Homo sapiens: one gene and its partners. The protein of the gene in region 7 purifies or fractionates together with the protein of the main gene of each other region. This does not show direct contact. Each region holds a gene or a part of one and is shown on either strand. Other genes may lie near its edges.

What was found.
Region 1: the proteins of CAPN10 (region 7) and MAP1B purify together in Homo sapiens (affinity purification with mass spectrometry; one large-scale study listed by BioGRID and IntAct). This does not show direct contact.
Region 2: the proteins of CAPN10 (region 7) and STK3 purify together in Homo sapiens (affinity purification with mass spectrometry; one large-scale study listed by BioGRID and IntAct). This does not show direct contact.
Region 3: the proteins of CAPN10 (region 7) and AHCYL2 purify together in Homo sapiens (affinity purification with mass spectrometry; one large-scale study listed by BioGRID and IntAct). This does not show direct contact.
Region 4: the proteins of CAPN10 (region 7) and MAP1A purify together in Homo sapiens (affinity purification with mass spectrometry; one large-scale study listed by BioGRID and IntAct). This does not show direct contact.
Region 5: the proteins of CAPN10 (region 7) and MAP1S purify together in Homo sapiens (affinity purification with mass spectrometry; one large-scale study listed by BioGRID and IntAct). This does not show direct contact.
Region 6: the proteins of CAPN10 (region 7) and CCT6B purify together in Homo sapiens (affinity purification with mass spectrometry; one large-scale study listed by BioGRID and IntAct). This does not show direct contact.

The regions. Positions count from the first base shown.
Region 1 is NC_000005.10:72,113,975-72,117,474, forward strand, and holds part of MAP1B (microtubule-associated protein 1B), read left to right. Parts: intron 1-1,723; coding exon 1,724-1,825; intron 1,826-3,500. UniProt on the Homo sapiens protein: Facilitates tyrosination of alpha-tubulin in neuronal microtubules. Phosphorylated MAP1B is required for proper microtubule dynamics and plays a role in the cytoskeletal changes that accompany neuronal differentiation and neurite extension.
Region 2 is NC_000008.11:98,815,689-98,819,188, forward strand, and holds part of STK3 (serine/threonine-protein kinase 3), read right to left. Parts: intron 1-3,500. UniProt on the Homo sapiens protein: Stress-activated, pro-apoptotic kinase which, following caspase-cleavage, enters the nucleus and induces chromatin condensation followed by internucleosomal DNA fragmentation.
Region 3 is NC_000007.14:129,406,530-129,410,029, forward strand, and holds part of AHCYL2 (adenosylhomocysteinase 3), read left to right. Parts: intron 1-2,946; coding exon 2,947-3,017; intron 3,018-3,328; exon of another isoform or gene 3,329-3,500. UniProt on the Homo sapiens protein: May regulate the electrogenic sodium/bicarbonate cotransporter SLC4A4 activity and Mg(2+)-sensitivity. On the contrary of its homolog AHCYL1, does not regulate ITPR1 sensitivity to inositol 1,4,5-trisphosphate.
Region 4 is NC_000015.10:43,520,608-43,524,107, forward strand, and holds part of MAP1A (microtubule-associated protein 1A), read left to right. Parts: intron 1-33; coding exon of another isoform or gene 34-116; intron 117-364; coding exon of another isoform or gene 365-505; intron 506-716; coding exon of another isoform or gene 717-866; coding exon 867-3,500. UniProt on the Homo sapiens protein: Structural protein involved in the filamentous cross-bridging between microtubules and other skeletal elements.
Region 5 is NC_000019.10:17,729,480-17,732,246, forward strand, and holds part of MAP1S (microtubule-associated protein 1S), read left to right. Parts: intron 1-2,767. UniProt on the Homo sapiens protein: Microtubule-associated protein that mediates aggregation of mitochondria resulting in cell death and genomic destruction (MAGD). Plays a role in anchoring the microtubule organizing center to the centrosomes. Binds to DNA. Plays a role in apoptosis.
Region 6 is NC_000017.11:34,930,461-34,933,960, reverse strand, and holds part of CCT6B (T-complex protein 1 subunit zeta-2), read left to right. Parts: intron 1-1,460; coding exon 1,461-1,594; intron 1,595-2,909; coding exon 2,910-3,012; intron 3,013-3,500. UniProt on the Homo sapiens protein: Component of the chaperonin-containing T-complex (TRiC), a molecular chaperone complex that assists the folding of proteins upon ATP hydrolysis.
Region 7 is NC_000002.12:240,593,234-240,596,733, reverse strand, and holds part of CAPN10 (calpain-10), read right to left. Parts: intron 2,829-3,500; coding exon 2,687-2,828; intron 2,192-2,686; coding exon 2,025-2,191; intron 1,711-2,024; coding exon 1,430-1,710; intron 416-1,429; coding exon 213-415; intron 54-212; coding exon 1-53.

The DNA of each region.
Region 1 (3,500 bases), on a different chromosome or scaffold from region 7:
AAATGCAAACTGAGGCTATTAATGTTTCCAGGAAGAGCCATAAAATTCTCCCTTATAATTTGACCTTTCCTTAAGCACGTTAACTCTTCCACATCTGAATTCTTCCCATTGATCATATGAGAAATTTCTGCCTGTATTTAGTGGACACACATCTATTTGAAAATATTCCTCCTGGTTGAAAAGGTCTGTGGTGTGTAATCTAAAGATATTTTAGATGTGCAGTGAACTGAGTTTCCAGAATCTTTTTTTTTTGTAATGTCTATGTATAATCCACCTTGATTCTTTACAGGATAGGAAGACTGAATACAATATAACCAAGGGTAAATACAAATATGCCTTAAGGATCCAGTGTGTATTTAAGTAACACACTGCTATTTATTCCTTCAAGTCTGTATACATGACTAATGTCCAACAAAAATGATTACATGACTGGGTGTTAATTTAGAGATAGTTCACCTGCTGTGTTATACCTAGAGGTTCAAGCCCTTACCTTTAGGAGGTATGCAATAAATGTCTGTTGTTCTAGAGATTTGTTCCTGGCAATTGAGAATGCTGTATACAAAGGTACAATGATGGATACCACACACTGGCTCCACCATGAGCAACCTATTAGGAAAAATGTAATATATAATATGTAAACATGTAAAACACACACACACACCAGAGTTCTGGGGTTCCCCAACTTTCCCTGGCTTACTCTCCAGACCTCCCTTCTATGATGCTCTCTGGGGTTCCCTCTGGGCCATCCCCTTTGGGAGGGCAGGAGAAAGAGGACAGTGGGAGGAGGAAGGAAGAGGCTAGAGAGTAGGGCATGAGCACAGGAAGCTGCCCTCATCCCGCCTCTTGCCCTCCTGTTCCTCTCACCCTGGATATTCCTTTCAGCCTAGGGAAAGGAAGTCTGATAGGACTTCCTTTCCGTTCAGCCTAGGGTAGGAATAGCTGATTCATGTCCCCAACTCCATAAATGTTTTATAAAGTATAAAAAGTTGCCATTTTTCTTTGCCTCTGGATAAGAAAATTGAATACAATGAACAATTGTGAATAAAAGAGCTGCCTGCCAAGCTACTCAGGTAACAGAAAAGTGCCTGGAAGGACAGACAGGCCAAGTCTTGAAGATTGAGTGGATCCACTCTGTTTATCAAAGATCACATAAATCTTGGATTGATATCCAGGGCTCGATAAACCAAAGTCAAAAACGGGATTGGTAAAGGAAAGAAATTACACATGTATACTACCAGAACATCATTTTAGAAACAAAGGCCCGTGCTTGAATGGCAGCCCCCGTGTATTTTCTTTGCCTTTATTCTACATTTTCTTGCCACCTACAAGTGGAGTTAGTCTGTCTACAAGCTAGAGTTAGTCTGTTGGCCTCTTAGCTTCTTAAGAACTAACATCTTCCTGCCCTTTCTAGTCCCTCCCTGGAGTACAGCCTGTCATTTTCCTAACAACTGTTTTCTTTGACTCTTCCAGAAGAGGTGCATTTACTTTTTATGAGGGGCAGAAGCTCAGTCCACACTGCTAATTATCCCTCCCTTGTGGCCTGGTGGAGAGACCTCCCTGGCCCTCCCATTTTGTGGGCATCCACTGCTAAGCCACCAAGCTCTTCAGAAAAGGAGTTCCCACATCCTCCCTGAAAGCCTGAGAAATATTACAGTGATGTTGTCCAAACCACTCTGAAATGACTAACTGGAAGTCTCTCAACTGTCTTTCTTTCCCTCCCTAGGAATCCGATCATGGGACACAAACCTGATTGAATGCAACTTGGACCAAGAACTCAAACTTTTTGTATCTCGACACTCTGCAAGATTCTCTCCTGAAGTCCCAGGTGAGGCTTCCGCTCAGTGTTGGTCAGCCTAGAATTCCAAAGGACAAGGAGCAAGCTAGAAAGCTTTGTCTGAGGCAGCAAAAAGACTCTCTTATTGCTAAAAGGATACTTTGTATTTGTTATTATCAACTAGGTTAGCCAGCAGCCACAGTTTAGGAAGTCACTCTAGGTTATCACTGTGTGGGTTATCTATTTTGTGGATTCTTAATGAGTTTTTAAGTTCTAGGGTTGTGTATGTGTATATATATACACACACACACATCAATGATCACACAAATTTTGAATTGATATCCAGGGCTTGAGAAAGAGAGAGAGAGAAAGAGAGAGAGATAGTATAGTGTGTGTATGTGTATCTCACTGTACTCTGAGCTCAAGGGACTACAAACTATTTAAATGTTAATCTTACTCAAATGAAATTCTGAATACAAATTGGATGCTCCTAGGATCCCAGAACTGTCTTCCTGCAAAAGAAAAAGGAAACATATACTGCATTTCAAAATGAAATATACATCATCATTTCATAATTGCATTATCACCCGCCATTGCATTACCACTTATCTTTCTTCGTGTGGGTAAAAGAATCTGATATTACAAACTTCTGTTAAAATAGCCTTTTTTTCAGAGATGAAAAAGAATATCAAAGAATAATTAAAGGTAAGGATGCAAAAATTTGTCATATGTGAAGATGTTCCCACTAACCAGCCACCTTCCTGGGGCTATGATCTGACCCATGCCTCTGGCGCTGGAGATGTATTCATACTGACCCATCTCGTCTTCTTCTTGTGAGCAATAACCTATATTCCTCCCATTTGGTCACATTTAGGAATTATGAGACAGTTTCTGGCCCATAAAGACTCCAAACCTGGAATATATTTCTCCAGACCTTTGCCATTGACCCATCAGAAACACTGTATTACATCTTATTTCTTGACCATCACTTGAATTTTACATAAGAGAAAGCTATTTTCTGCCCATATGCTTTTGTTATATGATTCCTAATTTTATTGGCATTGATATAACATCAGGAATGAGATTCAGCCTATTTTGACTGGTTAGGTCATATTCCATTAGTCGTGTATATACATTGATATTTGAAATCACTTTTATAGAATATCAGTGCCTTCGTGAATCACATTTGGCTGCAGTAATATGCCCATAGGACTGTCTCAGTTCTTCCTTTTGAGTTTAATATTAGAATAAAATCCCATACATTTCAGTTATTGAAATGCATTGTAGCTTTCAAGTATGGAATTGAGTAAATGTGCTAAGAAAAGCTTAGCAAGAAATGGTTTATTAAAAGTTAACTTCCTGCAAAGCCACATGAAAAATCAGTTTTTAAGTAACTTTGCTTTGAGAAAAAAGGAATCCAGAGACTGTCAGACAGCATATGATTTGCTGAAGGAAAGGTACAGTATAAGGTTGTTTCTCTTGTTGTTATTTTATTGTATTTTTGTCTTGCGATATCTCCGTATCTTTTAAAACCATCTCACAAAAAAAATGAGGGAAGTGCTGTTTTCCAAAAAGTATGATTATTTCAAAATGTAAAAACTACAAGCTTTTATTTTTTCTCTGTAGGTTGTTCTGGCTTTTTTACTATGATTGTTTGTAAGACTTCTTTTTTTGTGTGTACAAGTCATGTGGTTCTCATTGTGTTCATTCATATTTGGACTGACTT
Region 2 (3,500 bases), on a different chromosome or scaffold from region 7:
CCACCTTTGGAGAAAGACAGGGAACTAATTCGTTATCTTGAAAACTTGTAAATAAAAGGAAAGAATCAAACATTTATCCTGTCTTTCCTTTATCAACAGTACCACTGGGTAACTAAACAGAAGATGAGGGGAAGTTACTTTTTATAAAAACATTCCAATTAATAAATGAAAGCAAAATGATGTATTTAGAATTTCATTATATTGCAACACCCACTAACCATCCACAGCCGCTAACATCACAAAAAAGAAAGACAATTAGACATTATGATATTCCCATGGTCTTGCCAAACCCCATCTATATATATATATATATCACAATGCCTAAGGGATCGAACTTGAGTCTGCTCCATCTCTGGATCCAGCTGCACGTTTGCAGAAAATACAGAAGACAAAGGAACATGTTGAACTGACCTATATTAAGCAATCAGCAAAATCCAACTCTGGGAAACTAGTACAAACAACCTGGGTTCTCCAACAGGAAAAGGAAAAGGATGGAGGACTAAACTAAAGATTAAAAGTGACAACTCATATCAAAACTGCTTTTTGGGCTGGGTGCTGTAGCTCATGCCTATAATCCCAACACTTGGGGAGGCCAAGGCAAGACCACTTGAGCCCAGGAGTTCAAGACCAGCCTAAGCAACATGGCAAGACCCCATGTCTACAAATACACAAATTACCTGGGCATGGTGGCCAATGCCTATAGTCCCAGCTCCTCAGAAGGCTGAGGCAGGAGGATCCCTTGAGCCCAGGAGGGTCAGGCTGTAGTGAGCTGAGATTGCACTACTGCACTCCAGCCTCAGTGACAGGGCAAGATCCTGTCTCAAAAAACAAACAAACAAACAAACAAACAAAACACAACCTAGAGACAGTGTTTCCCTCTTGTTGCCCAGGCTAGAGTGCAATGGTGCAATCTCAGCTCACTGCAACCTCCACCTCCTGGGTTCAAGGGATTCTCCTGCCTCAGCCTCCCGAGTAGCTGGGATTACAGGTGCCTGCCACCATGCCTAGCTAATTTTTGTATTTTTAGTAGAGATGGGGTTTTGCCATGTTGGTCAGGCTGGTCTTGATCTCCTGACCTCAGGTGATCTACCCACCTCGGCCTCCCACAGTGCTGGGATTACAGGTGTGAGCCACCGTGTCTGGCCAAAACTTACTATTTCTTAATCATCAAGACTAACCTACAGTATCTAGCAATGCACATTTGGGTTATTACTACACAAGTCAGGAAAATGATTACTTATAGGGAAAGGCCACTGTGATCTATTTCTCAACCTGAGGGGTGATTACAAAGGTATCTGCCTTATAATAATTCACCAAGCCATACATGTGTTCTGTACTAATGTTTTATTTTGCAATAAAAAGATTTTTTTTAAAATAGCAGGTTACCAGCACACCTGAACATGTCAACACCTAAAAACGGCTAGATATGTTTTCCATTCTCTACTCTAACTGAGTGAAAACAATAGGATAAAAATAGAAATCAGGCCGGGCATGGCGGCTCATGCCTTTAATCCCAGCACTTTGGGAAGCCGAGGTGGGTGGATCACCTGAGGTCAGTAGTTCGAGACCAGACAGGCCAATATGGTGAAACCCCATCTCTACTAAAAATACAAAAATTAGCTGGGTGTGGTGGCACACGCCCGTAGTCCCAGCGGCTTGGGAGGCTGAGGCAGGAGAATTGCTTGAACCTATAAGGCGGAGGTTGCAGTGAGCCAAGATTGCACCATTGCATTCCAGCCTGGGCGACAGAGCAAGACTCCATCTCAAAAAAAAAAAAAAAATAGAAATCAGTGTGCATCATTTCCTCCCTACCCACTTCCTCTTCTAAAGGAACCACTTAATATCACATTTTAGGCCAATCAGATTCACTTTCTTGGGATTATGAAATTCCAAGAAAGAGACTATAGATATCCAAACCTGTTCTCCCGGTCTTTCCTCATTCCCCAAGTTGTTTCAATTCAAAACATAGGAGCCAGGATTGATTCTTTTTTTCCCCTCATTCCCCACATCTAGTCTATCAGCAAGTCCTTCATTTATAACTCCAAAATATCGCAAATCTCTCAACTTCTATCTCCACTGACTCTACCATCTCAAATCACAAACTATTCAAATAGTTTCCTAACTTGTTTCTCTTTTATTCTTAACCCTCTACAATCTACTCTACCCAAAGCAGCCAAAAGGATGTTTTAAAAACATAAACTGCTTAAAAACCTTTAATGACAGCACACAGAGCTCTGACTTAAATCCAAATTCCTTTCCATGGCCGGCATCATTGAATCCGTGCCCATCTCTCTGAGCTCATCTCTAGCCACTGTCCTCTTCTCCAATCCAGGCACACTGGTGTCATTTCAATTCCTCCCACACATTAAGCTCTTTCCCACCTCCAGGCCTTCTCATAGCTTTCCCCCCTGCCTGGAATACTTTTCCCTTGCTACTCACATGGATAACTTCTCAATGTCAGGTTACAACTTAAATATCACCTTCTCAGAGAAGCCTCTGCCAACTGCCCTATTAAGCAGGTTTCACCATCTTTCTCTACACACTACTTATATCTTTCATAGCTCAAGCTACAACAAGAGTGTATGTTATATGAGGGCAAAGAACCCACCTGTTTCATTCACCAATGAGCATCTGGAATGTGGAAAACAATTAATAATTACTGAATGTATGAATAAATGAGGAAATGAATGAAGTAAAGGCCGAATGCCAATTTTGCCATGAGTAGTGATCAGTAAGTAAAGAAAGCCAGTTTTCAGAAAGAACAGAGCAACACAACAGAGAACAGGAGACTATGTGGCTTGGTTCCATAAACAGAGTCAAGAAAATTAGCTGCCAATTATAAATTATAAATGTGTGTGTGTGTGTGTGTGTGTGTGTGTGTGTGTATCAAGATAGCAGAAACATCTGAAAAATTTACTCAATTCACCTCTATACTAAGATGTCTGGTATTATATAAATCTATAAACTAATTCAGAACTCAAAATAATACTACCTAAACTAATTATCATTAATGTTAACACTTTGTAATTCTCATTTTGCTATGAGTCATTTTTCAAGATATACTCCTATGATGTACTTTCAGAAATTCAAGGTAATCTTCATGTCGATATTCACGGTATGTATGCAAACAATGAATTTTTTTTGTTGTTTTTTTGAGACGGAGTCTCTGTCGCCCAGGCTGGAGTTCGGTGGCGCAATCTCGGCTCACTGCAAGCTCCGCCTCCCAAGTTCACACGATTCTCCTGCCTCAGCCTCCCAAGTAGCTGGGACTACAGATGCCCGCCACCATGCCCGGCTAATTTTTTGTATTTTGTTTAGTAGAGACAGGGTTTCACCATGTTAGCCAGGATGGTCTCGATCTCCTGACCTCATGATCTGCCCACCTCAGCCTCCCAAAGTGCTGGGATTACAGGCGTGAGCCACCGTGCCCAGCCCAATGAACGTTTTTGAGACAGGGTCTTGCTCTGTTGCCCAGGATGGAATGCATCCACACAATCATG
Region 3 (3,500 bases), on a different chromosome or scaffold from region 7:
GATGCCACACTTTATTTTAGAGGAGCCCAGATCCTCAGAGATGCTGCCACTAACTCTAAGCATCTGTCTTTTAAAAAGGTCAAGGAGCTCTGCTTGGAGAGAGCAGAGACTATCAGAAAAGCGAAAATTTAGAAATCCTGTGGAGATAGTAACAGGGATTCTGTCAGCCAGAGAACAGGTAGCCCCTTACCTTCTCCATGTATGATACTTGCCTTTCAAATAATGATCAGAAAAGAAATTGGCAGGCATCAGATGCCTTCTGATGTGTTACACTGAAAATAGCCCTTCTGTGGTATTCCTCCCAAAAATGTATAACCTGAATCTAATTGTGAGGAAACATTAGACCAATCCCAGTTAAGGGTAAAATCTACTAACTCTGAGTGAAGCATATATGAGAATTATTTACACTAGTATTATAATTCTTAAGTTTGAAATGATTCTAAAATTAAAAGTTAAAACTTTTCTTATCTATAAAATGTGTGTAATCATACCTACCTCATAGGATTGTGAGAGTTCAGTAAAATAATAATTAGCATAGGCTGGGTGTAATGGGTTCATGCCTGTAATCCCAGCACTTTGGGAGGCTGAGGCAGGAGGATTGCTTGCGCCCAGGAGTTCGAGACCAGCCTTGGCAACATAGGGAGACCCCATCTCTACAAATAATTTTTTTAAATTAGCTGGGTGTGGTGGTGCATGCCTGTGGTCCCAGCTACTTGGGAGGCTGAAGTATGAGTATCACCTAAGCCTGGGAGGTGGAGGCTGCAGTGAGTTGTGATTATGCCACTACGCTCCAGCCTGGGTGACCCAGCAAGACCATGTCTCAAAATAATTATTATTCTATATTATACATTATATAACAAATACATAATTATATAAGGTACAGAGCTGCTGCCACATAATATATGCTCATTAAATAATAGCTGTTATTAAAATTGTCTCTTGCCATCCTCAGCAGGGTGGGAAATACCACTGTTCTTAAAAACTATTGCAGAGTCCAAGTGTCTGTAGCCTAGGGGAACCATCATCCTTCTGGTACACTAAGAGTTTAGGAACCTGAACATATTTTAATACAAATTGATACTGTTCAGATACTGAACAGTTCAGATTATCCTGTTCAGATTATCCTGTAGACACGAATTGATCACTTACTATGCATTAGATACTGTGCTATGTGCTGAGAATGAATAAGATGAATATATAAATGAGATAAGGTCCTGCTTTTAGAAGCACACAGACAGATAACCACTGTGCAGCAAAGTAAGTGCTGTCATGGAGTTAAACGGCACATGCTTCTGTAGGAGCATAAAGGAGAAATTGCTTACTGAAGAGCAAGGGAGCAGGGTAGAAAGAGATGTCAGCAGAGCTGAGTCTTGACATTTGTATAGGTGTTTTCTTAGTTTGGAAGTATATTCCAGGTACTGGGAACATGTGTGTTGTCTCCAAGGAAGGAGATAGCATGGCAGATTTAAGAAGCTAGAAATATTTTAATGTAGTTGGCAGATGAAATACATTTGGGGGAGTGGTACTATCTAAGGTAGGAGTCATGGGAGTCATATGTCAATATAATCACATATCACTGTAAGTATTTGGGTCTTACTCTTATCCTGTCTTATCCTTAAGAACAGGCAGTCTCACTGAAGTATTTTAAGGAAAGGAAGCGACATGATCCAAATTGCATTTAGGAAAATCACTCTGCCAAATGATTTAGAAAGATGTAAACCTAGAGGCAATGAGATTGGGCCAGGGGTTACTATAGTAATCTAGGCAAGAAGTAATAAGACCTAAACTTAAGCAAGGCCAGTATGTATTAGAGAAGAGTAGAGAGATGAAAGAGACGTTTATGGAATTAAAGAAAAAGAGTCACCCAGATTTGGTGACAACTTCAATTCAGGAGAGGCAGCAAGGACATTCTTGTTTATATGGCTCATTCAGTTGGATGAACAGTGATGCTATTGATCAAGATAGAAAATATAGAAGAAGAAATAGATGAGATTATGGGTGCAGAGAAAATAATAAGTTTATTTTCAAACACAGTAAGTTTGAGATCCTTCTGGGACATTGATGAGGTGCTATCCAGTGGCTAATTTGATCCTTGGCTATGAAGCTTCAGAGAGATCTAAGCTAAAGTTACAAATGTAAAAATCAGCCATCTATCAGCAGTCATTTGCAGCCAAAGGAAGAGTATGGTTCTCTATACTGAAAGAATAGAGAAAAGAATAAAGGCATAACCCTGCAGAGCACCAATATCCAAAGGTTGGCTGAAGTTGAGGAGAGGCAATTAAGAGAAGTAAGAGGAAAACCAGGAGAGATGTATCATGGAGTCCAAGGGGTATAGAGTTTTAAGAAGGCAAATAATGTTTAATGTAGTAGAAGAAATCAAATAATATAAGAGTCTAAGAAGTTGGGCATGGTGGTGTATGCCAATAGTCCTGGCTACTCAGGAGGCTGAGGCAGGAGGATTGCTTGAGGCCAAGAGTTAGAGGCTGTAGTGCACTATGATTATGCCTGTGACTAGCTACTGCACTCCAGCCTGGGCAGCATAGTGAGATCCCATCTCTAAAAAAAAAAAAACACACACAGTTAAGAGTCTAAGAAATCTTGGGTTTGGCCTTCGGGGGATCACTGATGATCTTGGAGAGAGCAGTTTCAATGGGGTAGTTGGTTAAATGGCTAAGTGGCACTTTCTACAGTTTCTAGAAATTTGGTCAGGGAATCTCATGGTAGCCCCTGGCTCCCTATTATCAGGAAGAAATAAGTTCCGTGATGCAAACGAACCTTTTATTTCTGTCTTGTATGAACTAAGGAAATTGTTTGGATTTTTCACTTCTAAGAATAGTTCAGCTATCTCAAGAAATGACAGCAACTTGATATTAGCTTTTGAAGTCCTGTGTTAAAAGGCTCCCCAGCTGCCTGTTTAGGTTAATGGGTCATGCTTTATTTCAACAGTATGGATGGATTTCGACTGGTGAAATTAAATGAGGTCATCCGACAAGTGGACATTGTTATTACCTGTACAGGTATGATAATGACATTTTAAATGGGGTGGCACTTGGGAATGTTTTTATGGAGCAGGTGCAAGATGATTGGAAATATTCTGAAAAACCAAACTCTAAAAGCTAGAGAGAGATAGTAGCCCACAAAGCCAGCCAGTCTTTCACATTCTTCCTAATTCTTTAGAGCTCCGACCAAAGGTATACGATTAGGTTATTCCTATGTAAAAATGTTTCTCTTCACCCTTGAAGACAACTGTTATATCTCCATTCATCCTAGGAGATAGCTAGAGATGAGATTCACTTATAAAGTTTTATTTGGGAAGCCAGATATTTTTTTTTTCCAAAAATATATTTATTTTTAAAAACAGAAAATCAGATCAGTTTTATAGAGTCAAATTTTCAAGAGACAAACCAGAGTTTGGATTCCAGCTTAGAGTGCAAGTGAAGCATCAGTAATCTCATGCAGAAGATTTGTCTCTGCAGGAGGTACATTCTGCTTGACTGCAA
Region 4 (3,500 bases), on a different chromosome or scaffold from region 7:
TTCTCAATATAAATTCCTACATCTCTCCCTCAGGCCAGAGGACCCTTTGCCACCAGAGTGAGATCCTAGAGACCATCATCCTGGTAAATCCCAGTGCAGACAGCATCAGCTCTGAGGTAAGGCCAGGGCCTGTGCCTTGCCAAACAGGCCTGGTGCAAGTGCTATACCCACCCTTGCCAGTGCTACCACTATTAGGCCAAGAATTCCTCTCTCTGCCATCTAAGCTGACGTATTGTCTCCAGCCCACTCTGGAGGTGTTATGAGGGACATAAGTTGGGAGCATGTTCTTGAGGTACTGAGGGGCCATTCATTGCCTTTCCCTGGATTTCCTATATCTGTGACCACTCCCCTTCTTCCATTCCAGGTTCATCATCTTCTTAGCAGCTCATCAGCTTATAAACTACTAATCTTGAGTGGGCAAAGTTTAGAGCCTGGGGGAGACCTCATCCTACAGAGTGGCACCTACTCATATGAAAACTTTGCCCAGGTCCTTCACAACCCCGAGGTAAGTTCCATGCCAGAGTGTCTGGGAGAAAGGGTAGCACTAGAGCTGTGGGAGGGATCTAAGGGAAAGTCTCATATTGCATGACCATGGGGGGCCCTGGCAGAAAGGTAAGAGTCCACCTTGGAAAGAGGTGAAGATTAGGGTACTGAATCTAAGTCAGACCAAAACAACTCTAGTGACCTGATCAGGTTTCTATCTCCTATTCTTCTAGATTTCCCAATTGCTCAGCAATAGAGACCCTGGGATACAGGCCTTCCTTACCGTGTCCTGCTTAGGGGAAGGTGATTGGAGCCACCTGGGATTATCCAGTTCCCAAGAGACCCTGCACCTCCGGCTAAACCCTGAGCCCACTCTGCCCACCATGGACGGCGTGGCTGAGTTCTCCGAGTATGTCTCTGAGACTGTGGACGTGCCATCCCCATTTGACCTACTAGAGCCCCCCACCTCAGGGGGCTTCCTCAAGCTCTCCAAGCCTTGTTGCTACATCTTCCCAGGTGGTCGTGGGGACTCTGCCCTCTTTGCTGTCAATGGTTTCAACATCCTGGTGGATGGTGGCTCTGATCGCAAGTCCTGTTTTTGGAAGCTGGTACGGCACTTGGACCGCATTGACTCGGTGCTACTCACACACATTGGGGCAGACAACCTGCCAGGCATCAATGGACTACTGCAGCGCAAAGTGGCAGAGCTAGAGGAGGAGCAGTCCCAGGGCTCTAGCAGTTACAGCGACTGGGTGAAGAACCTTATCTCTCCTGAGCTTGGAGTTGTCTTTTTCAACGTGCCTGAGAAGCTGCGGCTTCCTGATGCCTCCCGGAAAGCCAAGCGTAGCATTGAGGAGGCCTGCCTCACTCTGCAGCACTTAAACCGCCTGGGCATCCAGGCTGAGCCTCTATATCGTGTGGTCAGCAATACCATTGAGCCACTGACCCTCTTCCACAAAATGGGTGTGGGCCGGCTGGACATGTATGTCCTCAACCCTGTCAAGGACAGCAAGGAGATGCAGTTCCTCATGCAAAAGTGGGCAGGCAATAGTAAAGCCAAGACAGGCATCGTGCTGCCCAATGGGAAGGAGGCTGAGATCTCCGTGCCCTACCTTACCTCTATCACTGCTCTGGTGGTCTGGCTACCAGCCAATCCCACTGAGAAGATTGTGCGTGTGCTTTTTCCAGGAAATGCTCCCCAAAACAAGATCTTGGAGGGCCTAGAAAAGCTTCGGCATCTGGACTTCCTGCGTTACCCTGTGGCCACGCAGAAGGACCTGGCTTCTGGGGCTGTGCCTACCAACCTCAAGCCCAGCAAAATCAAACAGCGGGCTGATAGCAAGGAGAGCCTCAAAGCCACTACCAAGACGGCCGTGAGCAAGTTGGCCAAACGGGAGGAGGTGGTAGAAGAGGGAGCCAAGGAGGCACGTTCAGAGCTGGCCAAGGAGTTAGCCAAGACAGAGAAGAAGGCAAAAGAGTCATCTGAGAAGCCCCCAGAGAAGCCTGCCAAGCCTGAGAGGGTGAAGACAGAGTCAAGTGAGGCACTGAAGGCAGAGAAGCGAAAGCTGATCAAAGACAAGGTAGGGAAAAAGCACCTTAAAGAAAAGATATCAAAGCTGGAAGAAAAAAAAGACAAGGAGAAAAAAGAGATCAAAAAGGAGAGGAAAGAGCTCAAGAAGGATGAAGGAAGGAAGGAGGAGAAGAAGGATGCCAAGAAGGAGGAGAAGAGGAAAGATACCAAACCTGAGCTCAAGAAGATTTCCAAGCCAGACCTAAAGCCCTTTACTCCTGAGGTACGTAAGACCCTCTATAAAGCCAAGGTCCCTGGAAGAGTCAAAATAGACAGGAGCCGTGCTATCCGTGGGGAGAAGGAGCTGTCTTCTGAGCCCCAGACACCCCCAGCCCAGAAGGGAACTGTACCACTCCCAACCATCAGTGGGCACAGGGAGCTGGTCCTATCCTCACCAGAGGACCTCACACAGGACTTTGAGGAGATGAAGCGTGAGGAGAGGGCTTTGCTGGCTGAACAAAGGGACACAGGACTAGGAGATAAGCCATTCCCTCTAGACACTGCAGAGGAGGGACCCCCAAGTACAGCTATCCAGGGAACACCACCCTCTGTTCCAGGGCTGGGACAAGAAGAACATGTGATGAAGGAGAAAGAGCTTGTCCCAGAGGTCCCTGAGGAACAAGGCAGCAAGGACAGAGGCCTAGACTCTGGGGCTGAAACAGAGGAAGAGAAAGATACCTGGGAGGAAAAGAAGCAGAGGGAAGCAGAGAGGCTCCCAGACAGAACAGAAGCCAGAGAGGAAAGTGAACCTGAAGTAAAGGAGGATGTGATAGAAAAGGCTGAGTTAGAAGAAATGGAGGAGGTACACCCTTCAGATGAGGAGGAAGAGGACGCGACAAAAGCTGAGGGTTTTTACCAAAAACATATGCAGGAACCCTTGAAGGTAACTCCAAGGAGCCGGGAGGCTTTTGGGGGTCGGGAATTGGGACTCCAGGGCAAGGCCCCTGAGAAGGAGACCTCGTTATTCCTAAGCAGCCTGACCACACCTGCAGGAGCCACTGAGCATGTCTCTTACATCCAGGATGAGACAATCCCTGGCTACTCAGAGACTGAGCAGACCATCTCAGATGAGGAGATCCATGATGAGCCGGAGGAGCGCCCAGCTCCACCCAGATTTCATACAAGTACATATGACCTGCCCGGGCCTGAAGGTGCTGGCCCATTCGAAGCCAGCCAACCTGCCGATAGTGCTGTTCCTGCTACCTCTGGCAAAGTCTATGGAACGCCAGAGACTGAACTCACCTACCCCACTAACATAGTGGCTGCCCCTTTGGCTGAAGAGGAACATGTGTCCTCGGCCACTTCAATCACTGAGTGTGACAAACTTTCTTCCTTTGCCACATCAGTGGCTGAGGACCAATCTGTGGCCTCACTTACAGCTCCCCAGACAGAGGAGACAGGCAAGAGCTCCCTGCTGCTTGACACAGTCACAAGCATCCCTTCCTCC
Region 5 (2,767 bases), on a different chromosome or scaffold from region 7:
GAGGAGGGTCTCTGGCCTGCTGTGCTGTTCTTTGTTTTTTTTCTGAGACAGAGTCTCACTCTGTCATCCAGGCTGGAGTGCAGTGGCGCAAACATGGCTCACTGCAGCCTCGACCTCCTGGGTTCAAGCAACCCTCCCACCTCAACCTCCCGAACAGGTGGGACCACAGACACGCACCATAACGGCCAGCTAATTTTTTTTTGAGATGGAGTCTTGCTCTGTCACCAGGCTGGAGTGCAGTGGTGCGATCTGAGCTCACTGCAACCTCTACCTCCCGGGGTCAAGCGATTCTCCTACCTCAGCCTCCCAAGTAGCTGAGATTACAGGCATGCGCAACCATGCCCAGCTAATTTTTGTATTTTTAGTAGAGATGGGGTTTCACCATGCTGGTCAGGCCGGTCTCGAACTCCTGGCCTCGTGATCTGCCCGCCTCGGCCTCCCAAAGTACTGGGATTACAGACGTGAGCCACTGTGCCCAGCCTACGCCCAGCTAATTTTAAAATTTTTCAGTAGCACTGGGGTCTCACTATGTTGCCCTGGCTGGTCTTGAACTCCTGAACTCAAGTGATCCTTTGGCCTCGGCCTCCCAAAGTGCTGGGATTATAGGCATAAGCCACCACGCCCGACTCAACGTTTAATTTTGGATGAACCGCCAGACTGTTTTCCACAGCAGCTGCTTGACGCTAGCCAGTCTAATGGGTGTGAGGTGGGATCTCATTGTGGTTTTGATTTCCATGTCCCTAATGATTAGTGATGTTGCATCTTTTCATATGCCTATTGGCCATTTGTCTGTCTTCTTTGGAGAAATGTCTATTCAATTCCTTTGCTCATTTTAAAATTTTGTTTTACTTTTTAGAGACAGGGTCTCGGTCTGTTACCCATGCTGGAGTGTAGTGCAAACACAGCTCATTATAGCCTCAACTTCCTGGGCTCAAGTGATCCTCCCAGCTCAGCCTCCCAAGTAGCTGGGACTACACAGGTGCATGCCATCGTGCCTGGCCAATTGTTTAATGTTTTGTAGAGATGGAGTCTCACTATGTTGCCCAGGCTGATCTTGAACTCCCAGCCTCAAGCGATTCTCTCGCCTTGGCCTCCCAAACTGTTGGGATTACAGGCATGAGCCACCATACCTAGCCCCCTTTGCCCATTTTTAAATTGAGTTGTTTTCCGTTGCTGAGTTTTAGGAGTTTTTTAAATCATTCTGGACATTAATCCTTTAGCAGATAAATGGCTTGCAAATATTTCCTCCCATTCTGTGAGCTGCCTTTTTATTCTTTTGATAGTGCCCTTTGATGCACAAAAGTTTTAAATTCTCATGAAGTCCATTTTGTCTATTTTTTTCTTTTGTTGTCTGCACTTTTGATGTCAGACCCAATAAATGATTGCCACATCGATTTTTTTTCTTTTTTCTTTTTCTTTTTTTTTTTTTTCAGATGAGTCTGGCTCTGTTGCCCAGGCTGCAGCATGGGAGCACTATCTTGGCTCACTGCAACCTCCGCCTCCCGGGTTCAAGCGATTCTCCTGCCTCAGCCTTCCTGAGTAGCTGCGATTACAGGCACCCACCACCACACCTGGCTAATTTTTTTTGTGTTTTTAGTAGACACGGGGTTTCACCACGTTGGCCAGGCTGGTTTCAAACTCCTGACCTCAAGTGATCTGCCCGCCTCGGCCTCCCAGAGTACTAAGATTATAGATGTGAGTCACCATGCCTGGTCAAATCCAACAGTGAGAAGCTTCTACCCCATGTTTTCTTCCAGGAGTTTTAAGTTTTCCATTTCACATTTAGGTCCATTTGGAGGTAATTTTTGTATGTGGTGAAAAGATCCAGTGTCATTCTCTTGCATGTGGAAGCCCAGCTTTCCCAGCACCATTTGTTGAAAAGACTATCCTTTCCCCATTGAATGTTTGGAACGCTTGTTGAAGATCATTTCAGCATACATGTGATGATTTATTTCCGGGCCTCTATTGTATTCCATTGGTCTATATGTCTGTCTTTATGCCAGTGCCACGCTGTTTTGATTACTGTAGCTTTGTAGTAAGTTTTGAAATCTGGAAGTGTGAGTCCTCTATCTTGATTCTTCTATTTCATGATTGTTTAATCTCCTTTTCACATTGTTCATTGTTCATGTATAGAAATTCAACTGTGTTTTGCCTGTGGACTTTGTACCTTGCTTCTTTGCTGAATTCGTTTATTATTATTTTTTGAGATGGAGTCTCACTCTGTCGCCCAGGCTGGAGTGCAGTGGCACAATCTCAGCTCACTGCAACCTCCACTTCCTGGGTTCAAGCAGTTCTCCTGCCTCTGCCTCCCGAGTAGCTGGGATTACAGGCACCTGCCACCACGCCCAGCTAATTTTTGTATTTTTAGTAAGAGACAGGGTTTCGCCATGTTGGCTAGGCTGGTCTTGAACTCCTGACCTCAAGTGATCTGCCTGCCTCAGCCTCCCAAAGTGCTGGGATTACAGGCGTGAGCCACTGCACCCCCAGGCCTGATTTTTTACATTATTGTTCATAAAGTCTGTTGAACTGGCATTTTCTTGTAGAATTAAATATCTGTGCCTGGCTTTGGTATTAAGACAATTCTGGTCTTATAAAATGAGTTAGGAAGTGTTCCTTCCTCTTCAGTTCCTCGGAAAAGTTTGAGAAAGGCTGATGTTAGTTCTCTAAATGTTTAGTGGCTTCCCCAGGGCTTTTCTTTGTTGGGAGGTCGTAAGTTACTGATTCATTCTCCTTGCTAGCTACAGGTATGTGCTGATTTTCTATTTTT
Region 6 (3,500 bases), on a different chromosome or scaffold from region 7:
GATGGGGTCTCACTGTGTTGCCCAGGCTGGTCTTGAATTTCCGGGCTCAAGTGATCTACCTGCCTTGGCCTCCCAAAGTGCTGGGATTATAGGAGCGAGCCACCAGACCCTGTCCTTTTCTAGTTTCTTAAGGTGGAAGCTGGGGTCATTAGTTTGAGAACTTTCTTCGTTCCTAATATAGGTGTTTCGTGATATAAATTTCTCTTTAAGTACTGCTTTAGGGATGCTAAAATTTTGATATGTTGTGTTTTCACAGAGAATGGGATCAGGGAAGTTTTCAAAGGTTCTAGTAATCTCTTTCTTAAGCTGGGTGGTAGGTACATGGATACATTTGTTTATTTGTGCATTTATTCTTTATATCATACATATAAATATTCTTTTGAGTATATTCTGTATTTAACAAGGAACTTTTAAAAAATGTGAATGGGAGGTAATGATGTAATCATCTGGTGGGTAAACAACTCTTTGAGCGGTTATGTTGTGAAGTGAAGCAGTGAAAGGGGGTAGTAATTTTAAAATGATGTGAGATAAAAGGGGAGATTGTTTTCGTATTGTTTTGTTTTAAAGCAAGTTTTCTGATTTAAATAAGAGTCATAAACTTTATGAAACCATACAAGTAGCAGATATAAAAGTGATATCCTGATGTGAAATTTGATGTGTTTAACCAAAACTCTTGCTTTAGAATAATACCACTTAAATTTTTTCTTAGATAGCAGTTTGAGTTCTGCTGCAGTACAAAAAACAAATACTTCATTGAGTTCCAAGAATTCCCTATCAAAAACTAGACAAATGATCTTGGTCTAAAGAATTTTCATGTCAGATATTGTAATCAGTTACCTGTCAATATAAATTATAAATACCTCTTAAAAGTAGTCATAAGGCCGGGTGTGGTGGCTCACACCTGTAATCCCAGCATTTTGGGAGACGGAGGTGGGTGGATCACTTGAAGTCAGGAGTTCAAGACCAGCCTGGCCAACGTGGTGAAACCCCATCTCTATTAAAAATACAAAAATTAGCTGGGTGTGGTGGTGCACGCCTGTAATTCCAGCTACTTAGAAGGCTGAGGTAGGAGGATCACTTGAACCTGGAAGGCAGAGGTTGGAGTGAGTCAAGATCATGCCACTACAGTACAGCCTGGGTGATGGAGTAAAACTCCATCTCAGAAAAAAAAAGTAGTTATAAAAGAGTAAGATGAAGGTAAAAATAAATTATTCTTGTTTACCAGAGGGTAAGGAGCAAAATAAGCTGTTTGCAGCCAGTTATCTGTACTATGCCTATTTATTTAATGACATATAACTTCAGGATGTTTCATAAGATAACTGAGTAATTACTAAGCTGTGCAATTTATTTGGTTTCTGTAGATAATAGAACATACTTAAATAGTGAATTGCTTTTCTGTCTCTCTCTCTCTTTTGGTCTTTATGGCATGTCTTGCCAATCATATTTTTTCTCTCCAATAGGTTGTATGGTTCCTGGAGCTGGTGCAATTGAAGTGGCAATGGCTGAAGCTCTTGTTACATATAAGAACAGTATAAAAGGAAGAGCTCGTCTTGGAGTCCAAGCTTTTGCTGATGCCTTACTCATTATTCCCAAGGTACAACTACCCTTTCGGCCAAATAACAACTGCTTAGACATAAAGGTGTTTAATTACAAATTGCCCATATTATCTGATAGTTAATGGAGTAGACAGGTATTTATGTGCATTTCCTTACACAGTTTTCTCTTAGATATTTTACAACTAAAGCAGGGAAACTTTTGCGATAACAGCCCAGGATCCTTGCACGATCTCATGAAATAGCCAACTTACCCCCTTGCTTCTTTCTCTGAGTTCCAAAAATTAAAGCAGCTCCAAAAATTTCCTTCAGAAATGACTCATGATTAACTAATCATAATGAAAAAGTTTAGAATTTAAAATTTAGTTAGATTTTGTGGTACATCTTTGTTTTGTTAGTGGTATCCAAATGTAATCAATTTAAATTGTGGAGAGGGAGGGCTTGAGGCTCTTTAGCACTCCTAGATACAACCTTACATTTGTCATCATCATTATAATTCCTAGAAAAAGAGAAAACAGAATTTTTCCATGTGGCAACCTAAGGACAGAAAGCGACCATTCCTTTGTCTTTGCCTTAATTGGTTTCAAACCACCTTAGAAATATAGTAAAACTACTTCAAAGATGCTATTACCATGAATTAAAACATTATTAACAATGTTAGCAAAATCTCTTTGCTAATTTTTATTAAAATTTTTCATAATTTGTGAAATCTTTGTGAATTAGATTTGCTATTTTTTCTTTCCCCAGAGCAGCAAAGTCAGTATGATCCTGCTGCTGACAGAAATTGGTAACCCCAGTACACATTACATTGGTGGTACCTTTTTCCTCATCAGCTGGTGATTTGGGGCCACTTGGAAGTGAGCCTGGTTTGGAGTGCAGGTATCTCCAACCCTGTTACCACAGGTCGTGACTCTCCTCATGAAGATGAGGGGCACAAAGGTGCTGCAAATATTCTGGTTTCCTTAGCAAGTGCCTATGAAGAACTGGAGGGCATGTGGCTAGCGGCACTAGAGGAAACAAGAATATCATTCTACTTCCTTCCATACTAAAAACAAAACAAAACAAAACAAACCTTTTGCAAGGAGGGAAATTAATGTAGTAGGGTAAAAATGGGGGAACTCTGATGTCCTCAGAATTTAGTGTGACGTGCATAGGGGAAATGTTTAAGTAAATATAAAAACTACTAGATAGATGAAATAATAATTTGATTTAGATTAAAAGTGGAATTCTTCAAAAGGAGATGATTGCCATGTTATGGATGTGTTTTTACAAGAGTAAAGAGTATTTTTATATTTGATATATGTGAAGGTATTATGCATATATATATAATATATATTATTATTTTTATTCCTAAAGGTTCTTGCTCAGAATGCTGGTTATGACCCACAGGAAACATTAGTAAAAGTTCAGGCTGAGCATGTCGAGTCAAAACAACTTGTGGGCGTAGATTTGAATACAGGTAAGAAAGTGAAGGAAAATTAGCTGCTTAATAAAGAGGTTATTCTTTAGTTACCCAGATCTTATGGTAAAGGAGTAGAGGTTTGGGTAACTTTAATATTTAAATTTTGGATGCCTTTAGTTTATTTTTGAGCTTCTTAAAAAATGTTCATTCATTTAAGAAATAGTTATTGAGTGCTTGTTTTCCTCTTGGGCTTCACACAGAACAAAACAGACAAAAATATCTGCCCCTGGGAGCTTATGTTGTAGTGGGAGAAGGTAGGCAGTAAATAATAACTTTAATAAATAAACTCCTTCAGCATTTTAGAAAAAGTAATGAATTATATGGAAAAAAGAGTGCTATAATAATGATCATGAATGCTAGTACAGGAGGGTGGAGAGAGAATGACAGCTTAAAGGGTTGGTCAGGGTAGGCATCATCTAGATGTCTGTTGAAAAAAAGTGGAAGGAAGTGAGGAAATTAGCCATGTAGGCAACTGGGGTTAAGTG
Region 7 (3,500 bases):
CCGCAGGCAGGGCTGCCCCGGGGGTGGTGTTCTTGGCCACTGCCCTGATGGCGCTGCCAAGAAGACAAACATGGGAGGGCGCTGGCAGCAGGTTCCCGGTGGCCTCAGTTCCCACATGGACACCTGCCAACCACAGAGGGAAAGTGCCCAAATCCTGCCTTGGAAGGGCCTGTGGCCTCGGAGAGCCAGCAGCACTGCGCGGTTCCTCTCACCTAAGGGAGACTCGCCCGGTAGAGAAGACTCGGAGCAGGAACTCCCCTGGCGCGTCCTTCAGGAAGGTGCTGGGGACAGCCAGGTAGTAGCCCGGTGAGAGCTCACAACGCAGGTGGACCTCCCGGTCGTATGCATGGCACGCGGTGCCAGCCACGGGGGGCATGGACAGGACCCTAGGCAGATTGACCCGCCGCTTCTCTACCTGTGAGCACGTGCAGGAGGCTCAGTGTGGAGGAGCGGCCGGGGTCAGACGCCCTGGCCTTGACCTCCCTGCTGCAAGCACAAGGGCCTCTGGAGTTGACAGATGAAAGCGCCAAGGCCTGTCAGCACCCTCCACCCTCTCTCAGGGACCAGCTAGAGATGCCCACCAATCCCGGGCTTCACTTGGCCCTGGCGCCAGTATCTGTCCCAGACACGAGCCTGCAAGTCCTCCTTGTAGCTGGGCCCACAAAGGCACCGTGGCCCAGGCAACCTGGGGGCTGCTGGACAGTGGGCCTTCCAGCAACTTCTTTTGCAAGAGGAAAGGAACATCATGTGGGCCACATCCATGAAGGGACAGGGAACAGTGTGGTGCCAAGTGTCACACCCTGTCAAGACACACAAGATGAAAACCCAGCCCCTGAGCGAGCAGCCGGCATATCCTCGACCCACACTCAGGCCCTTTGCCCTCAGGCGCCCCCATCTGTTCTTCCTGGAAACAACACACTTTGTGAACCAGTGGTTGAGCCTGGGACTGCCTGGGCCTCAGAGCAATCCCATGAGATCCGTGTCAGGACCCCGTCTTGCAGGGGAAGAGACTGAGGGAGGCAGGGAGAGGATGTGTGCCAGGTCACACAGCAAGCTGCAGAGCTGGGACTGGCCCTGACAGGTCCTCAGCCGCTGGCTCTACCTCCTTGCCTCAGAAAGGCACGGCGCTGCCAGGAGCCCCCCGGGTCCAGGCCCCTCCTGCGGGTCCTGCCCTGGCTGCAGACTCTGTTGCTTTCCTTTGGCCAATGAGGCACACGGCAAGGCAGAAAGACCTGCAGTCTCAGGTCAGAGCCGGGTCTGGGAGCACCAGCAGACGTCAACCCCGTGCAACAGCCCAAGGAGGGGGGAGACTGGTGGGGCCCGTGGCAGAGTCACATGTGTCCCGGCAGAGCCAGTCCTAGAACCCAGACCTCCATGGGCCTCCACACCACCTGCTGAACCGAGCGTGAGCCAGACGGGGCTGAGTTACCTTCCAGAGGTGCAGACCCACAGCCTGGTAGTGCTTGCCCGGGATGCTCGCTGGGCTCCACGAAGTATGACTGTCACCCACCAGTGCCCGGGCCCGGCCTGCCCAGTCCGCCGCGTGCAGCCTGGATCTCTGCAGGACGGCAATGTACACCTCACTCGGTTCTGAGACCCGCAGCCAGAATTTGGGGTTGCTGGGAAAGCCGCTGTTGTTCCGGCAGCCTCCTGCTGACTGGCCCTTGACCCAGGCCCCAGGCAGCGCCCGCGTATGGCAGAGCAGCCTCTCTAGTGAGAAAACACCAGGCATCAGCTGTGGGACACGGCTCCTCGCTGGCCTCCCGCCATGGTGGCCTCATGAACCCTGGCAGGGTCTAAGCAGCAGCTACGGCCACAGACAGAGCCAGCCCCTCCCACAAGCCCACCCTCCTCCCAGCTCCTGGGACAGAATCATCACCCTCCTCCCGGCTCCTGGGACAGAATCATCTCTCCACGCTGAAGAGAACCAAACTGGGCCTGGGCAGGGGGAACCCAGGCACCTGCCCAGCCTCCTCACTTCGGCAGGCAGAGCACGTGCCCAGCACAGCCCCTCGGGGCACTACCTGTGTAGAGGCTCTGCAGGTGGCCGGCCTCCGTGACCGGGTAGCCAACGGTGAGCTCGTCAAACTCCCTGAGGAACTCCTCCTCCTCCACCCAGAACTCCCCTTCCTGGAGCTGGGACAGGAGCTCAGATGCTACCGCTGCATCTACCTGGCTCCACCCTTCACCCCTGGAAGAAACCTCATCTCAGCAGAAGCCCCTCCCGAGAACTGGTAGTGTCAACTTGCCGGCAGGCTGGGGGGAAGCCTGGAGGGGACCCAGAGAGCCCTGAGTTCCTGCCAGCAACCCCGTGCCCCAGCTCTGCAGCCCCTCCCACACCCGAAGCAGCTCTGCAGCACAGGGCCTTCTGGGCAGCGGCCACCCTGGAGCCCTCTCTTTTCCCAGAGGAACTTCACGCCTCTGGATGCGTCTTCCCAGGACTGCTGCCCGAGCCCGTGATGATGTCTGCCCTATTGAAACCCCAGGCCCAATGGCCACCTTGGTCCCAGGCCTCACAAGGATTGCCTGGAGCCAAGACAAGCATGGTGTCACGAGAGCAGGGACTCAGGGGCCTTGCTGGAGACAGCCAAGTACAGTCCTGACAGCTGAAGGTGACCAGGACACAGGCCAGACTGGCACTGGGCCCCCCTCCCGACAGCAGCATGGTCCAGGCCCCAGCACTCACCCCTCTCTCCAGAGCCCCTGCCAGCACCGCCGGCCCCAGGGGTTCTGGATCCGCAGCAGCAGGATGCACTGGCCCGCCTGACCCTGGAGCTCCCGCAGGTCCGAGACAATGAAGGCATGGAACTCCCCCAGCTCCCGGGCACCTGCATGAGGAATGGCGCAGGCACAGGCAGGAAGGGCACCATGGAGTCCCAAACTGACAAGGACACACAGGCCTCTGCCTCCTCCTCTGGAGATGCTCCAGCCCACCCCACTATGGCTACACGGGAGACCCCAGATCCCCATGGACCACGAGAGCTCCTTTCTTAGCAGCTGTGACCCATCAGCTCAGGAGCATCTCCAGGAGCAAGCACACGGGGCCTGACTCGGCTGCCATCCGGGTCTGGTGCTGGGTAAGTCATCCCCTTCTCTAGGCCTCAGTCATCGTCCGTACCCATCTGTGCACGATGCCTGGCACAGCACCAGTTCTCAAACATGCTGCACAGATGCATCTGCAACTGCCAGAAATCTAGAGAGTGTTTCTCTTGGCAAAGCCTGCTAGAGGTAGGACATTCAGATAGTGCCCTGGCTAGAAGCCCACTGGAGGCATGGAGGCCCAGGGGGGCAACAGCTCCACCTGGCCAGAGACCTTGAGACAGATGGGCATAGAAAAGAAAGAGCCAAACAGAGAGGAAGGCCACATCTGTGGCGGGGCAACGGTCTAGAGAGGAGGGTCTCCTGGAAGGACTTCAGTCTCGCCCACGCCGCGGCCCCTTGCCACCTCAGCAGGCTCCAATGCACCTCCAGTCAGTGCCAGCTGCCATCTCTCTCTGCCT